Linked DNA regions of Homo sapiens: region 1 is linked to region 2. The links come from fine-mapping of genetic effects on gene expression. A gene starts in region 2. The other region holds a variant in brackets. All regions are shown on one strand. Distances are between the middles of the regions.

Region 1 (5,374 bases), 790 kb before region 2:
TTCAAAAGCTAGCAGAAGGCAAGAAATAACTAAAATCAGAGCAGAACTGAAGGAAATAGAGACACAAAAAAACCCTTTAAAAAATTAACGAATCCAGGAGCTGGTTTTTTGAAAGGATCAACAAAATTGATAGACTGCTAGCAAGACTACTAAAGAAAAAAAGAGAGAAGAATCAAATAGATGCAATAAAAAATGATAAAGGGGATATCACCACCGATCCCACAGAAACACAAACTACCATCAGAGAATACTACAAACACGTCTACACAAATAAACTAGAAAATCTAGAAGAAATGGATAAATTCCCCGACACATACACTCTCCCAAGACTAAACCAGGAAGAAGTTGAATCTCTGAATAGACCAATAACAGGAGCTGAAATTGTGGCAATAATCAATAGCTTACCAACGAAAAAGAGTCCAGGACCAGATGGATTCACAGCCAAATTCTACCAGAGGTACAAGGAGGAACTGGTACCATTCCTTCTGAAACTATTCCAATCAATAGAAAAAGAGGGACTCCTCCCTAACTCATTTTATGAGGCCAGCATCATCCTGATACCAAAGCCGGGCAGAGACACAACCAAAAAAGGGAATTTTAGACCAATATCCTTGATGAACATTGATGCAAAAATCCTCAATAAAATACTGGCAAACCAAATCCAGCAGCACATCAAAAAGCTTATCCACCATGATCAAGTGGGCTTCATCCCTAGGATGCAAGGCTGGTTCAATATACGCAAATCAATAAATGTAATGCAGCATATAAACAGAACCAAAGACAAAAACCACATGATTATCTCAATAGATGCAGAAAAGGCCTTTGACAAAATTCAACAATGCTTCATGCTAAAAACTCTCAATAAATTAGGTATTGATGGGACGTATCTCAAAATAACAAGAGCTATCTATGACAAACCCACAGCCAATATCATACTAAATGGGCAAAAACTGGAAGCATTCCCTTTGAAAACTGGCACAAGACAGGGATTCCCTCTCTCACCACTCCTATTCAACATAGTGTTGGAAGTTCTGGCCAGGGCAATTAGGCAGGAGAAGGAAATAAAGGGTATTCAATTAGGAAAAGAGGAAGTCAAATTGTCCCTGTTTGCAGACGACATGATTGTATATCTAGAAAACCCCATTGTCTCAGCCCACAATCTCCTTAAGCTGATAAGCAACTTCAGCAAAGTCTCAGGATACAAAATCAATGTACAAAAATCACAAGCATTCTTATACACCAGTAACAGACAAACAGAGAGCCAAATCATGAGTGAACTCCCATTCACAATTGCTTCAAAGAGAATAAAATACCTAGGAATCCAACTTACAAGGGATGTGAAGGACCTCTTCAAGGAGAACTACAAACCACTGCTCAAGGAAATAAAAGAGGATACAAACAAATGGAAGAACATTCCATGCTCATGGGTAGGAAGAATCAATATCGTGAAAATGGCCATACTGCCCAAGGCAATTTACAGATTCAATGCCATCCCCATCAAGCTACCAATGACTTTCTTCACAGAATTGGAAAAAAATACTTTAAAGTTCATATGGAACCAAAAAAGAGCCCGCATCGCCAAGTCAATCCTGAGCCAAAAGAACAAAGCTGGAGACATCACACTACCTGACTTCAAACTATACTACAAGGCTACAGTAACCAAAACAGCATGGTACTGGTACCAAAACAGAGATATAGATCAATGGAACAGAACAGAGCCCTCAGAAATAATGCCGCATATTTACAACTATCTGATCTTTGACAAACCTGACAAAAACAAGCAATGGGGAAAGGATTCCCTATTTAATAAATGGTGCTGGGAAAACTGGCTAGCCATATGTAGAAAGCTGAAACTGGATCCCTTCCTTACACCTTATACAAAAATCAATTCAAGATGGATTAAAGACTTAAATGTTAGACCTAAAACCATAAAAACCCTAGAAGAAAACCTAGGCATTACCATTCAGGACATAGGCATGGGCAAGGACTTCATGTCTAAAACACCAAAAGCAATGGCAACAAAAGCCAAAATTGACAAATGGGATCTAATTAAACTAAAGAGCTTCTGCACAGCCAAAGAAACTACCATCAGAGTGAACAGGCAACCTACAAAATGGGAGAAAATTTTCGCAACCTACTCATCTGACAAAGGGCTAATATCCAGAATCTACTATGAACTCAAACAAATTTACAAGAAAAAAACAAACAACCCCATCAAAAAGTAGGCAAAGGACATGAACAGACACTTCTCAAAAGAAGACATTTATGCAGCCAAAAAACACATGAAAAAATGCTCACCATCACTGGCCATCAGAGAAATGCAAATCAAAACCACAATGAGATACCATTTCATACCAGTTAGAATGGCAATCATTAAAAAGTCAGGAAACAACAGGTGCTGGAGAGGATGTGGAGAAATAGGAACACTTTTACACTGTTGGTGGGACTGTACACTAGTTCAACCATTGTGGAAGTCAGTGTGGCGATTCCTAAGGGATCTAGAACTAGAAATACCATTTGACCCAGCCATCCCATTACTGGGTATATACCCAAAGGACTATAAATCATGCTGCTATAAAGACACATGCACACGTATGTTTATTGCGGCATTATTCACAATAGCAAAGACTTGGAACCAACCCAAATGTCCAACAACGATAGACTGGATTAAGAAAATGTGGCACATATACACCATGGAATACTATGCAGCCATAAAAAATGATGAGTTCATGTCCTTTGTAGGGACATGGATGAAATTGGAAATCATCATTCTCAGTAAACTAGCGCAAGAACAAAAAACCAAACACCGCATATTCTCACTCATAGATGGGAACTGAACAATGAGAACACATGGACACAGGAAGGGGAACATCACACTCTGGGGACTGTTGTGGGATGGGGGGAGGGGGGAGGGATAGCATTGGGAGATATACCTAATGCTAGATGACGAGTTAGTGGGTGCAGCGCACCAGCATGGCACATGTATACATATGTAACTAACCTGCACATTGTGCACATGTGCCCTAAAACTTAAAGTATAATAATAATAAATAAACAAATACATAAAAAAGAAAAAAGCCAGGCCAAAAAAAAAAAAAAAA[G/AG]AAAAACAAACAAATAAGCAAACAAACAAAACAAAATGGAGTGTAGCTCATTGCAGACAGCTGATTCAATGAAAGACTACAACTTTTCCTCAAATCCCTCCTCCCCATGCCATGACACTGGGGCATTAGAAGCAGCAGAGTGGGAGGACGAGAGGAATAAGGAAAGGCTCTGCCCCTTCCCCACTGTGAGGTCTTGAGCCATGAATTGGGTCTGAGCTGGGGATGGAGGATGCTTTGGACTAGAGTGAACTTCTTAATAGAGTGAGTCTTCCAAAAATGCGACTATTCTTAATATTAGAAGGGACAGACATGCTGGGATCTGCCTAAGGGGTGGAAAGGAGGATTCCTCAAGACATGGGTGAAAGGACAAGTTGGAAAAGATTAAAACAATTTGCGGTTTGAACTCTTCCTGAAAGTTAATAAAATTCAGTTGTTGATACATTTATTCATTCATGTATTCAATATTCATTGAGAGCATCTATTATGGTCAGGGCCTGGACATATTGATGAAGACAAAGCTCTTGTTCTCACAGAACTTATATTCTAGTCAATTTGTGTTTCGTGTCTCTGTGCCTTTGCACAGGCTGTTCCCTCTACCTGCATTCCTGGCTCTGTCCATCTTTCTGCACAGGATGAGATTCTTTCAGATTTCAGTCAGGCTTCACCTCCCATGGAAGACATCCTTGAGCTCCGTGGCAGCATTGGGAATCCCTCCTTCCATTCCCTAGGTTATGGCAACACTGTGTTGCTCTAATCATTGGCTCATGTTTCAGTTCCCCTCCTAGCCTGGGGTCACCCTATTATCCCCAGCGCCTCAATGAACACATGCATTGAATTATTAAAGAAAACTCTGAAAAGACTGTAAGTTCATTGGAAAAATCTGCCTCCTTTATTCACCGTTTTTTTTTTGTTTTGTTTTGTTTTTTAAGCACTTCACACTACGAGACCCTGAACATGTTGTTGCCTACCTCAAAATCCTGGGCCTCACTTTCCCCATCTGTAGAGTGGGCATATAATCTTACCTCCTCAGGCGCTATGAGGATGAAATGGAATGGGATGTATGGAGGGGAGTCCCAGGGGCTGGGCTGTGGGTGGAAGTGTGTTTTAGTCACAGCCTTGGGGACACCCTTGGTGAGTGCTTACTAATAGCTTCTGGATCACCCATCACATTAAGAAACTGGGACTCTGATGAGCTTGTAGACATTTTCTAGAGCTTGTTTATTTACAGATTGACTTCTCAGAGGGAACTGTTATTATTATTTGTTATCACCTCTGTAGTTGCTTCTAATTCCCTGTTTTTCAGCCAAATTGGTTGAAATCAATGTTTCTCGTATATGCCCTGGGATTCCCACCTCCCTGCTTTTTCTCATACTTGTAACTCTGCCAGCAGCCATTGAATTCCCATTCAACCTTCTAGACCCACTCAGATGCCACCTGTCAATAAAGCATTTTCTGATCCTCTCGGCAGGTTGTGTTCCTGCCTTCTTTTCTGAAAGTCTTTTCATTCATTGACTTAATTAGGGAGGTTGTGTTTGCCTTAACCCCTGTCCGAGCTGAGATTTCAGGGGCCATGTCTGTTTTGTGCCTGTTTCCTGAGACCTGAGTCTGATCCAGTGGCTTGTGTATGGGGAAATGCAAGAGAATAGAACTGAGGCCATGGAGGGAGGGTGATACAGATGGGTGTTGGGACAAGAGCCAAACAGCCCCATCTGAGCTGACCTCTGAGCTGACCTCTGTCTCTACCACAACCTGCCTGGGCCTGGCTCTGCCCAAACTTGCCCACATTATGCCAGCAGCCCCCACCCCCCCTTCCAGTGCATACATATGTGTTCCCACAAGCTCCCCCAACTCCCAGGACAAATCAGCTAGGGAAGCCTACATGGAGATAAGATTAGGTGCAATTTGTTAACAGGAGTTTTAGCTTTCTCTATTTTGGCAAAGCCTTCTTGACAGAGCAAACCCCCTGAGGAAATGCATCAAGCAACAAGTCCCTGTGGCATTTTAACAGCCAAAAAGCCAGCTGCTGAAAGAATTCCAGCCAGGCAGCTGACAGCAACAGGCTGGCTAATTAATGGAAACCCATTTGCAAAATTAGTGGTAAACATTATTACCCAGGTGTGCCAGCCCTAACCCCCAGCAGAGAGCAGTGGAATAAAAAGCTGGTTTTAAAGGCAGGGAAGAGCCAGGGAGCAGGGGTAGAGGTGGAAAGCTCTCATAGTCAGAGGGCTTGCGTTCCAGGCCTCTAGGTTCCAACCCTGAGTGATCACAGGGCT
Region 2 (5,374 bases):
ACTCTTCCTATTTTGGGCAGTCTCTCAGGTCTTCCCGACTGCACCTGCTCACCTACTCAGTTGTACTGCCTCAAGGGGGGCAAGGTATATCGGGTTTTATACTTAACTATTCCATAAATAGCCATGCTGCTCTAATAACCAATACAGTGTGTGTGTAGGGGGATTAAAGTTCTTGACCAGAGAAACATTTAGCAAAAGAATGCACAAAACATCAAGGGAGGGGCGCTCTTCTCCTTGGAGGAGGAACTGAGGTCCCACGCTGATGGGGGCAGATAAGCCTGGAATTGAGGACTTCCAGCTCCCAGATACTTATGTACTCTCCAGCCCATGCTCAGATGGGGCTGCAGAATGGTCCCATCAAGTCCTCTATCAGGAAATAAGTGTTTCTCAAAGTGATTTCTAGGGCACATATACAATTCGGCTGTTAAATGTGTTTGTAAAACAGTGTAGACAAGACATTAGACAATGCAGCTTGCTTATTTGTGACTTCTCAGGACCTAAGACGCAAGGGTCCTTTCTGAAAGTTCATGGGGAATTGTGAATGGGGTTGTTCCCAAACAAATTTGGCCCCTGCACCCTAGGTCAGGAAGCAAGTCCCAGAGCTGAGGTTCTATGGAATTAGAAGGTGGAAAAGGCCACATTAAGCCCTCCTTTGGCTTTCAGCATTTTTTCCCCCATTTCAGATAGACCGACAGGCAGACATGTGTCCCCTGCTGTCCACATCAGGCAGGGCTGGTCCACCACTTCCTCTTCAGGGTGACACCTTCTCACATCTCTTGCTGCAACTGTAATGGGAGAGAGAAATTAAGAAATATGTTTGAGAATGCAAGAAGCAAAAACACACATGGAATGACATATTCCATGTACAATCACCTTTGGCTCACATCCCCTCTTTTTGAACTCTGAGAAAGCAGGAGGGGACTGGGGCCGGTGAAAATAAGGTGCCACCTCTACTTAATATAAAGAGATTTCTGGCTATTGTGTGAGTGTAGCTGGGGGACTTGGGGGTGGGGTTGGGGGCTGGGGATGGAAGAGGAAGATGTAAGGGGGCGACTTCGTCCTCTCTAGGCCAGCAAGGGCTTGGACAAAGGTCTCTGGCCTTGGTTCCTCTGGCGGAGAATAAGCACCCTCAACTGACGCGCTGATGGAGGGGCAGGACCTGCATTAGCCGGAGCTACAGGAAAGCAGGGTACACATTGTCTCATCCTGGCTTTGTTACCACTTCTAACCCTGAGAATCTCTGGCGTGAGACTTCAAAGATCATCTGACTTGTCTCTGCCACCTTGTGCCTTTTGCTTAGTGACTTTGGGTAGGTCGCATCAAGTGCTCAGTAATCAAAGGGGTGGGGCTGGATGACCTCAGGCTACCCCTGGGCTTCCACCTCCTAATTGTCTCCAGATGGGGAGATGCCACACAACTTGGAAGTAGTAAGGTCTCCGGTGAGTCTGAAAGGCACATCTTTGCTGAAGACTTGTCACCTGCCCTCTTGAACCTTTGTTAGGGGGAATGACTCTCAGATTGGGGGGGGGGGGTCTATTTTTTGAGACAGAAAAAATTTTCAGAAGCCTAACTGGTGTTTCCCTTAGTCCCTCCTTTTGGCTAGGTTTAAAAGTACTGCATGCTAGAAAGCTTTCTCCAGGTCTACTCGCTGTTTTTTTCTGTAGTTTTCAGACCGCTCACGATGTCCTGTCCACTGGCTCAGGAGGGGGTGGCAGGAAGGGTGCCCTGGGCTTCTCCTCTGTAGAGGAACCAACCAATTTGGCTACCTGGGAGTAATGTGCAATCACATTTTTATTTTTGTCACCACCAGGGTGTCCTGTTGGACTCTCTCCTCTCATCCTCTCCCAAGGCGGCTGGTTGGTGTGGCTTTAGCAGTGGGTGCTATTATTTGGAGGTGCCTAGAGACTTAGAGTGGTGGCTGCACCATTTCGCTGGGTGGCTTGCGAATTGTCAGTCTGGTTCCTGAGAGCTCAAACTGAGATGGAAATGAGACCTGTTTTCTCTCTAGGCCGGCCGGGGCGTTCCGCACAACCCACTTGAGAGGCCCCACCGGCGTGGCCTTTAGGACGGTGCCTCTTGTCTTGTAATGGCCACCGGCCCTCCCTCGGGAGACACGCGGCCACCTGGGTGGGACGCTGCGGTGCTTACCTCCGGGACACGAGGTGGTCGCTGGGAGAGGGCTCGGAAGGCCCTGGGGGTCCTATCAGGACGCAGCACTGGGGAGACGTGGAATCTCCTCTTCTCACCCCCACAAGCCTCGCCCGCATCGTAATTCTTTTTATTTTTACTTTCGAGCCATGTAAGGCATGCAGATGGGGTAGGAGCGTTCCCGCGACACGTTGCCAGCAGCGCAGCGCCGGCCCGCTCGTGTGGCCGGAGCCCGGGGAGGGGACAGGGCACGCGCCGCCTGACCCACCTGCCCCACCGCCCACGGTCGCGGCCGCCCTGGGTCGCGGGACCCGCGCCGGTCACCCCCGCCCCGCGGGGCCCAAGAGGCGAGGCCGCGCGGCCCAGCCCCGGCCTCCGCCCTGGCTGAGTGCTGGGGCGCGCGAGGGGCGCGGGCAGGGTCCGCCCCGGCGGGTCAGTGCCCCGCGCCCCAGGCCGCTGGCGGCCAGGCCCACGTTTTCCCTTTCTCCGGCTCCCTCCGCCCTCCGCTCTGTCCCTCCCTCCGCCCTCCTCCCTCCCCGCGCTTCCCCTCCTCCTGCCTGGTCATGTGTCGCCTTTTTTTGTTTGCAGTGGAAACAATTTCTCGCCGCTCGGCGCGCCCCGGCCCGACGCGCCGCGGCGGAGGCGAGCGGGAGGCGGGACGGGGCGGGGAGAGCGGCGGGGCCGGCGGGAGGACGCGCGGCGCGCCCGGCGGACGCCGCAGGTCCCATGCCGCGCCGCGACCCCCGCGCCCCTGCCGCCCGCGCCCGCGGCCGCCCCCCGCCGCCCGCCGCCCCGGGCTCGCCGCGCCGCGCCCGCGCGTCCTTAGCGGGGCCACCGAGCGATGCCCGCCGGGCGCCCGCGAAAGTTTGTCGGCTCCTGCTGAAGGGCAGCGGCGCCCCCGCACCCCCGTGCCCCGCTCCGGCCAGGTGAGTTTGCACCCCGCTCCTGCCGGCTCCCGCGTGGGCTCGGGGGGCACCCGGGGCGGGAGGCGCGTCCGAGACGGTCCTGGAGACTACCTCGCCGCTCTGGGAAGACGAGGGACCCCGCAGGTCCTGGGGGGAGGGTCGGGTGTGGACCCCGGGAGCCCCCGAGCCGGGAAGTTGCCGGGTCCGAAGAGTTTCCTGCCCCGACGTGCGTGCTGCTTCCCGGTGCCTCGGTTTCCGAAAAGACGCCCGCAAGGAACAGAGTTGGTATTGTCTGCGGAGGACGGGGTCCCCGCCGTTCCGGGCCGGGGAGGGGGTTCCGATCAAGTGGAGACCCCAAGATGAGAAACAGGCTCCTAACAAAGATCACCCCCCGGCCAAACTGTGCAGACTTGGCACAGGCAACGAACGTCTCCGGAGACCCCCGAGGCCCGACCCCCCTCATCCCGGCCCTGTTTGAAACCCTCCTTGGGCCCTGGATAAGTTGGGGGACGGCGGGCTTTTATTGATTTGTTTTCGAGGCTCGCCGCGGTGCGGCCAATAAAAGGTTTATGACATCTGACCGGCAGTGAAGGTATGCGAGCTCCCAATTGCCCTGTATATGGGGATAAGAGCAGTTTCCCCCGTTGCCCGGCAACGCCGCTGATTGACGCGGGGTGCAGCCAATCGCCACTCCCGCAGGTCCCCTTGAAATGTTTTTGACAAGTACAGTAGACGAGAGTGAAGCGCGTGCGTGCGCGCGCGCGCGTGCTGGGTGGGCGGGGGTGACCCGGCCCCCCAAACTCGCTACTGCTCGGCTCTGGGAAGATTTCTTAACTTTTTAAAGTTCGCATCGAACATCTGTTCAGAGCTGGGCCAGTAATGTCTTTGTCAGTTATTTGGAGACCTTCTGTTTACTAGGCGAGAAACTAAGCTTTCTTGCCGCATTTTCTCCGTTAAAAAATAAAGAGGGTAACAAAACACAGCAAGTCATAAAAAAAACAAAAGAGGGTGTGTGTGTGTGTGTGTGTGTGTGTGTGTGTGTGTAGAGAAAAGTTGTAAGGAGGTCACCAGTGAATAACTATTTGCGTATCTGGTGGAGCAGCCTTGTTGGCAGCAGATTAAAAATGTTTGCTTAACTGCAACTCACATGATCCAGATTCTTTTTTTTTCCCTCTGAAACAGGAGGAAAAAAAGATTTGGCGAAATCTGTAGTTAGAGTATAATAATGGAAAACTCCTCAGCTGTGGTTTCTGGGAACTGTTTTTTTTTTTTTTTTTTTTTTTTTTTGGTTATTGTTGTTTTGTTTTGTTTTTACATGGAACTGTAGTGATCAGCAGCTCTTCACCCTGTTGGTATAAAATGCGGGATTTATAGGGATGCAGTGAGTGGTTGGAGAGTACGGGGTCCCAGCACAAAACGCACACATGATCCAAGGGTACTGAACTCCCATAACCCTCTCTTCGTGACAATGCCACTTTTTCTCCTAAAACCATATTGCTGGCAGTGTTTGTTTAAAACAAAAGGAAACATGGAGAATAGCGTGTTAGTTCCTCTGGGAAGCTACTGACAAATAAGCAAATTAAAAAGAAAGAGAGCAGCATGTTGTCATAGCAACAGTGCAATTAAATTACTTTACTGTCAGCCATGATATAATTTTCCTGTTTGGAAGCTCAGGAGACATAAAACTTTCATTTAGAGCTAAAGTTGACTTCAGTGGCTGGGTAGTTCTGTTTTATACTCTACTGTGGGCATATGCTGGTCATCAGAAAATTTTCTGATGGGATCTGAGGAAACTTTAAGAAAGACAAGTGGTGCTATAATTCGTTCATAAAGAAGTTAAAAGCAGGATCAGACCAGACTCTGTTGTATCCCCAAGCCAAAAGATGCTAGCTTGTTTTTTGTCTGAAATGTGTCAGGGTAACCTCCTTATTTGACAGAAAGAAATATTCCCTGTGAGTGAACCCAAGACGTCTGGAGCATCCTGCCTGGTCTGTACTGCAATGCCTCATGAAGTTTTCTCTCCTTAAGAGTTGGGCATCTTGGCCAGGCGCGGTGGCTCACGCCTGTAATCCCAGCACTTTGGGAGGCCGAGGCGGGTGGATCACGAGATCAAGAGATTGAGACCATCCTGGCCAACATGGTGAAACCCCGTCTTACTAAAAATACAAAAATTAACCAGTCATGGTGGCACACGCCTGTAGTCCCAGCTACTTGGGAGGCTGAGGCAGGAGAATCTCTTGAACCTGGGAGGCAGGGGTTGCAGTGAGCGGATTTTGCACCACTGCACTCCAGCCTGGGCAACAGAGTGAGACTCTGTCTCA

Which allele goes with the higher level. Alleles are on the strand shown, and positions count from the first base shown. SD is a standard deviation of normalised expression in the study named.
For the expression in B cells of the gene that starts at base 2,591 in region 2, allele G in region 1 goes with a lower level than allele AG (large effect, 2.1 SD a copy in Fairfax 2012).

What was found. PIP is the estimated chance that this variant, and not a neighbour inherited with it, causes the effect.
Region 1: its variant is fine-mapped to the expression of FOXN3-AS1 in B cells (Fairfax 2012, PIP 0.95).

What each region holds. Positions count from the first base shown.
Region 1 is chr14:90,204,455-90,209,828 of GRCh38, reverse strand. No RefSeq gene overlaps it. Among named protein-coding and RNA genes, the nearest start is that of PSMC1, 49 kb to the left of the region's middle. The variant G/AG (reference allele first, on the strand shown) is at 3,102.
Region 2 is chr14:89,414,571-89,419,944 of GRCh38, reverse strand. FOXN3-AS1 (FOXN3 antisense RNA 1) reads right to left here and starts at 2,591. Exons shown (of 2, transcript NR_036500.1): 1 at 2,149-2,591; 2 at 152-785. FOXN3 (forkhead box N3) reads left to right here and starts at 2,712. Exons shown (of 6, transcript NM_005197.4): 1 at 2,712-3,074. RefSeq lists silencers at 2,331-2,620, 2,661-2,870 and enhancers at 2,566-2,860, 2,485-3,017, 3,018-3,551, 3,566-3,860.